Homo sapiens: one gene and its partner. The protein of the gene in region 2 interacts with the protein of the main gene of each other region in a pairwise test. Each region holds a gene or a part of one and is shown on either strand. Other genes may lie near its edges.

Region 1 (3,925 bases), on a different chromosome or scaffold from region 2:
CTACAATGTTTCTCGAGCAGCTGGCAATTTCTCCTCTCCAGACGGTACCACCGATGACCCTCTGGGAGGTCATACCGTCTGGCAAGTGGTCTTCATCGCTTTCTTAACGGGCATCCTGGCCTTGGTGACCATCATCGGCAACATCCTGGTAATTGTGTCATTTAAGGTCAACAAGCAGCTGAAGACGGTCAACAACTACTTCCTCTTAAGCCTGGCCTGTGCCGATCTGATTATCGGGGTCATTTCAATGAATCTGTTTACGACCTACATCATCATGAATCGATGGGCCTTAGGGAACTTGGCCTGTGACCTCTGGCTTGCCATTGACTACGTAGCCAGCAATGCCTCTGTTATGAATCTTCTGGTCATCAGCTTTGACAGATACTTTTCCATCACGAGGCCGCTCACGTACCGAGCCAAACGAACAACAAAGAGAGCCGGTGTGATGATCGGTCTGGCTTGGGTCATCTCCTTTGTCCTTTGGGCTCCTGCCATCTTGTTCTGGCAATACTTTGTTGGAAAGAGAACTGTGCCTCCGGGAGAGTGCTTCATTCAGTTCCTCAGTGAGCCCACCATTACTTTTGGCACAGCCATCGCTGCTTTTTATATGCCTGTCACCATTATGACTATTTTATACTGGAGGATCTATAAGGAAACTGAAAAGCGTACCAAAGAGCTTGCTGGCCTGCAAGCCTCTGGGACAGAGGCAGAGACAGAAAACTTTGTCCACCCCACGGGCAGTTCTCGAAGCTGCAGCAGTTACGAACTTCAACAGCAAAGCATGAAACGCTCCAACAGGAGGAAGTATGGCCGCTGCCACTTCTGGTTCACAACCAAGAGCTGGAAACCCAGCTCCGAGCAGATGGACCAAGACCACAGCAGCAGTGACAGTTGGAACAACAATGATGCTGCTGCCTCCCTGGAGAACTCCGCCTCCTCCGACGAGGAGGACATTGGCTCCGAGACGAGAGCCATCTACTCCATCGTGCTCAAGCTTCCGGGTCACAGCACCATCCTCAACTCCACCAAGTTACCCTCATCGGACAACCTGCAGGTGCCTGAGGAGGAGCTGGGGATGGTGGACTTGGAGAGGAAAGCCGACAAGCTGCAGGCCCAGAAGAGCGTGGACGATGGAGGCAGTTTTCCAAAAAGCTTCTCCAAGCTTCCCATCCAGCTAGAGTCAGCCGTGGACACAGCTAAGACTTCTGACGTCAACTCCTCAGTGGGTAAGAGCACGGCCACTCTACCTCTGTCCTTCAAGGAAGCCACTCTGGCCAAGAGGTTTGCTCTGAAGACCAGAAGTCAGATCACTAAGCGGAAAAGGATGTCCCTGGTCAAGGAGAAGAAAGCGGCCCAGACCCTCAGTGCGATCTTGCTTGCCTTCATCATCACTTGGACCCCATACAACATCATGGTTCTGGTGAACACCTTTTGTGACAGCTGCATACCCAAAACCTTTTGGAATCTGGGCTACTGGCTGTGCTACATCAACAGCACCGTGAACCCCGTGTGCTATGCTCTGTGCAACAAAACATTCAGAACCACTTTCAAGATGCTGCTGCTGTGCCAGTGTGACAAAAAAAAGAGGCGCAAGCAGCAGTACCAGCAGAGACAGTCGGTCATTTTTCACAAGCGCGCACCCGAGCAGGCCTTGTAGAATGAGGTTGTATCAATAGCAGTGACAAAACGCACACATCAACCCACAGACCTTAGGAGGAGGAAGGCGAGGGCGGGGTGACTTCTGGTGATGATAAAAATGGTTTTATCACCCAGATGTGAAAGAAGCTGCCTGTTTACTGATCCATTGAATAAACCCATTTTAATAGAAAAAGTCAATACCAATTCAGCAAAAAGAAAAAAAAAACATACTACTGAATATAAAGAAATTTATTCTGAAATAGACTTTACGTGTTTTTTTCTTAAAGAGGAGAAAAATATTGCTTGACGGCAATTATATACCCAAAGTGATTTGCCTGGGTCCTTTAATTCCCATTAGCTTTGGAATCTCAGATGAGCATAGCTGACCCAGTTCCCACATTCTTCCCAAGGATCCCAAAAGTGGGAATCCAGACCCCAAGTGGAACACTGCAGGCTTACGAATCTGTGGTTCCAAAATTATTTCATACGTTGCAAAGCTGAATCTTCTTGTCCCAATAGAGCTTCCTGTCTTTTCTTTGGTGTGTTGTTAAACTCTATTTGTGGACTTGATTCTTGATTCTTGCAAAGTACTGTTTTGTGCAGTTCAAGTTTCGTACAAATAAAAATACTTAAGTATATATATATGTGTGAGTTCTGCACGCACACACATAGTGTATATAATATCATGGGAAACACTGAACTGGCAAATTATTCCTGCAACATACGCTTTCAGTACTTTGGTAACTGAAGTTCTCTAGGATCCTAATGCAACATTAACGTGAAATAAGCCCAGTGTAATGTTTTTGAAACCAGGGCTGTTTTCCACAGAGAGCAGCCAGGCCTTCCCAGCAGGTCTGTGCAGAGCGGACAGGCTCGTGAGTCAGCTGAGCGCCGTGGCTTCGCCAGACTTGGTGTTAAGCAACCTCCTTTGTTGATGTCTCAACAGAGCTAAATCGGGGCCCCTCTGAGCTCAAAGAATGAACCACATCCACACGTTTGAATTTAATCATCTAAATCTGAATGTTTCAGAACAAAATTTCTGCTATCTAAACTGCTTGAAACTCAATAATAGTGTCACGTTTGAATGTCATACACAGCAATATATATATATGTGTATATATATATATATGGCAAAGCAAAAAAAAAAACATGGTAAGAGAGAATGAAGGAGAACATTGTGTTTGATTCTTGCTGAATGGCACCTTCTCAAAGAAAATAGGGCTTGCACCTTTGTTAATCAGCTGTGGCCAGTGCTTTCTGGTGTTCATTGTGTAACCTTCACCCAGGAATAGGTGAGGTTTTAGGAAGTTACATGTCCTCTGAAGAAAGAATTACACTCTGAAAAGTAATGCTTCAAATTGATTTCCTTACCTTTTGGGAAAAAAAAAAAATTGTTTTTTTGCATTCTCCCTTGAATTGACCAAAATGTTAACTGTTTCATTTGGGGAGGGGATGGGGTGCTGCCATCATTGTCGTTGTTGTTGCTGCTGTAGCTGTTGGGGTTTCTTTTCCTGTTGCCGGGGCTGTTTGGGGAGAGGGAGGGGAGGGAGGTGGGAGGGCCGCGGAGATATCTTCCCTTTGTACAGGGCATTCGTGTTGTGAACCCAGAGCTGGGTAGAAGCTGCTTTTGTATTCAGTGTGAGGTGGTGTTTACAGACGACTTTGACAACAGTAGAAGTGTACTCAGTGGTGTCTGTGTATCTGAACTATTTAATTTCGTGTTATGTTTATATGCAGAAATATTTATGGATACTACACCAAGTGTTTATTTAATGTTGATAAATATGACTCTTCAGTCGTCAGCCATGGTGTCCTTTCAAAGTGATTCTTTAAGGTCCACTTGAGCAATGAATAGAGTATATTGGAGCTTTCCTGTGGCTAAGAAGAAGAAACATGTCATCCTGTTGGCATCACCAAGCACCTAACTCTTTCTAGGTAATAAAAAGTCAACGGTCACTTCAACGTAAATGTTTAAAACCACTCTTTAGTTAAATCTGATGGGAACTGAACAAAGCTCCACCATTGTGTCTGAAATCATTTTACACAGGGAAAAAAAAAAACAATCAGCATAATTGTAAGAATGATTTTTTTGGGCCCACATTCAACCAAAGAACAAGAAAGAAACAGACGATTTTCTAATATGTACACAGCAAACTACAGAATGTCATATTATCCACCTGTGAAACATCTAGTAAGCAATTGCATCTATATTTTATTTCTCAAGTTGGCCTGGCACTAATAAATATGTGAAAGCTTATTCAAGTGTCCCAGTACTTCAGCACTTCCC
Region 2 (3,558 bases):
GCTTGCATATGCTCTACCTGTTTCAGGAAAATCGTAGAGAGGAGTCCTACAGGAAGTGTGTGACTGTTTCGCTTCATTGAAAATATAGGGTGCTATGGCTTTAAATACATTGGTATTCTGCCCCTGGCTTCACTGCAGAATGAACAACAATGATGTTCTGCTGAACATCAATTCCAGACGTTTTAGAAAGGGCTCAGCAGTTTCGTGAGAATGAAGCTGTATTACTCAAGTGTAATGAGCCAAAAACATCTTGTTTTTATGCAGCACTAGTACAGACCCATGCCCTGGACCTGTAAGTGCCTTTTCTGTTCATTGTAGGCTTAGAGGGCACAGGGTATTCACTCAGCCTTATCAGCACAAGTGTGAAAGGAACATTCTGGCTCAGAGAATTGAGTTGAAATGAGTATCAGGGACACAGCTTTTGCCAACTAATTATGGACTGAATATTCAATCCAGGTTTGCAATGTGCTGCTACCGAGTGCCTGCCCCACCAAGAAAAGGGTTTAAAAATGGTCAACTCAGAGTAAATTATTTTACAAATCCAATATTTATTTTATCTTGTATGTACAAAAAGTAAACTCCAAGTGAACATCAAATCAAATCTAATCCTTTTGGCCACATGACTGGTTGTTCTTTATCTCATAGTTACAATGAATCATATAAACTGTAGACTGCCACTACCACGATACTTCTGTGACACAGAAGGAATGTCCTATTTGCCTATCTATCTGAGGAATGTTAAATAGAGAAAAATAGATTATAAAACAACCTGGAGGTCACAGGATTCTGAGATAATCCCTCTGTTAAAAAACATCTGAACAGCAAATGTCCAATCTGTAATAAAATAGTTAAAGGTCCAAGTCAAGTCCACTTCTACTTGGCTGGCCCAGCACAAGAAATCTAACAGCACTTTGTAATCATTTTGCTTTTCTAATTTTCCCGGAGGACATGGGCCATTGACATATAAGGAAAAAAAACAAAAACAAAAAACGATTAAGTAAGTTGTGTGATCCCTAACCTGTGAGTTCAAAGGAAGATTTTGCAGGGCACCATTATTTCCATAGAAGATTCTTTTAACAGAGATGTCATTTCAAATCTAACGTAGCAATGGTGTGTTAGGATCACCCAGAATGAAATGACTCTGCTGATTTATGGCAAAACAGACATACCTTGGGTAAGAAATGAAGCCAATGATAACATCACACATGCAAAGATTTTTTTAAATAAATTGAGCTATATAGTTTTATTCTTTTTGCTAAACTCAGTTATTAAAAGGTTTCTTAAGAAACTTAACATCTTTGCGCAACTATGTCACTCAAGTGATTTATCTACAGGTTTGTTTTAAACCGCTAAGCATCCTGAGTCCATTTCTTTGCCTGGTGCTTGCACACACAATTTTCTTAGAAGGAGGCAACAGTTTCATTAACATAACTGAGGACAGAAATCAACTTGTTCTGGTCACCAAATGTCTTGTGTATATTTAAAAATATAACACGAGAAAAAGAAGATACTTTTTAAAATTCAGAATCTGTAGTTTGTAAAACTACTATCATTTTAGCATAAGTTCAGTGCTGACCTTTTCAGATCAATCATAAATAATAAATTCTCTCAAGAGAAATATTTCTAGTGGAAATGGGAAAGATGTGAACTAAAGCTATAACCCCTGTACCCTAAATATCAGCCACTTTGGGCTTAGCACTCTTTTGCGGGGCGGTGATAATACTGCATTAGAGCACATATGAATATATACCTTAGTTTACGCAGACAGAATATATGACATTTTTAAGTGATATACATTTGCTTGCGGTATCATTTCTAATATTATCAGTACTGTCATTATACAAAAATTTTTTTGAGCAATGATTGATAGTAACCCATCATACATGCAGCTTATGCCTTTCTGTGGCAGGATGAAAATCAATTTATAAACATCTTGTGACAAGCTGGAATTCAGTTATAGATCAATTACAGATTGCTCACTGGACAATCAAGGACATTATTAGAAAACGGTTTCCACCACTAGAAATTCATCTACATTGACATCCACCTAAATATCCAGAAGGTCATCCCCACTTTCGTCGCTCTCCACAGTCAGCTGCCGGGTCCACCACTTCTTAACTTCAGAACCGCAGGAAGCCGCGTCAGTCATGGGGTTCATTTTGCACACGACAGATTTCATGGTTGTCCTTCCTCCAAACCGTAAGTTGACTGAGGACACTGAATGGCTTATTGGTTTTGGGGCTGTGGAATTAATGAGTCCTATGAGCCACTTGGTATTGCTTCACCCTATTGTAATCACTCCTAAAAACCCATGATATTCCCATCAGTGATACTTTTGGCTAACGTGTCCTAGCCACAGATGCTAAGTAAACATCCTTTTCAGGACTTGATTCTTTATGTTCACGATAGATTTTTTTTTTAATTGTGCTCATGGACAACTAATGATGTCATTTGGGAAAAAAACGTGCTGCTCACCCCTTTCATTTTGAAATAATTAAAAAAACTAGAAAATCACTAAAAAAATTCCAATTCGGGAACTATTAAGTGTCACAGAAACCTGTGCATTCATTAGCATATGCAATAAAAAAAACAAAAAGGAAGGAGAGTGTGACCCACAGTAAAGGCGAGGGGGGATGCAGTGAGGGTATGGGAGGAAAGGTGTGGTTCTGGGGCCTCACAGTCATGGTGTTGGGACCCACCTCTGCAACCTGTGGATATGTAGCTATGGGCAACTTCACGTCTCTGAACCCAAGTTTCCTCCATTGTAAGATGAAGACAATGAAAATGTCCTAATTAGACTATTGTCAGGATTAAAACAGGTTACATGAGATGACTTAGGAAAGTGCATAGCATGACACCTGTGACATTGTTGCTGCCCCCTCAAAATACTATTTTTCTTCTCCTCTGCCTCCTCAAACTCAGCCTGACCCCAAGAGCATGTCTATTTCACGATCACCGTTTTTGGTGGGGACCACCTAGGCATGGACCAGTGGAAGTACTTTTTTTTTTTTTTTTTTTTTTTTTTTTTTGGGAGACAGGTTCTCACTCTCTCACCCAGACAGGAGTGCAGCGGCACAATCTTGGTTCACCACAACCTCTGCTTCCCAGGCTCAAGTGATTCTCCTGCCTCAGCCTCCCAAGCAGCTGGGATTACAGGTGCACACCACTACCGGTCAGCTAATTTTTGTATTTTTAGTAGAGACAGGGTTTCACCATGTTGACCAGGCTGGTCTTGAACTCCAGGCCTCAAATGATCCACCTGCCTCGGCCTCCCAAAGTGCTGGGATTACAGGGGTGAGCCACTGCGCCTGGCCCAATGGAAGTACTTTTGACAGCATCATTTCTTTTGTCCATTTAAATGAATACCAAGGACTGTGCATTCTCCCCAGGTCACCTCTCCTATCTGTCCCTGCAGTATCTGGCCCCCAGCTCTGTCCATGCCTTTGTTGCCTTGTGCTCACACCACGGTAACTTCCTCCAGCTTGTAACCTGCCTCCAGGCTCTGTCATAGACAATTCCCTCCTTTGCTGCCAAGTCAACTTCCTAAAGCACAGATTC

The links.
Region 1: the proteins of NALCN (region 2) and CHRM3 interact in binary tests that used the Homo sapiens proteins (3 or more experiments, as listed by UniProt).

Annotation. Positions count from the first base shown.
Region 1 is NC_000001.11:239,907,568-239,911,492, forward strand, and holds part of CHRM3 (muscarinic acetylcholine receptor M3), read left to right. Parts: coding exon 1-1,657; 3' UTR 1,658-3,925.
Region 2 is NC_000013.11:101,053,248-101,056,805, forward strand, and holds the end of NALCN (sodium leak channel NALCN), read right to left. Parts: intron 2,242-3,558; coding exon 2,048-2,241; 3' UTR 529-2,047; downstream 1-528. UniProt on the Homo sapiens protein: Voltage-gated ion channel responsible for the resting Na(+) permeability that controls neuronal excitability. NALCN channel functions as a multi-protein complex, which consists at least of NALCN, NALF1, UNC79 and UNC80.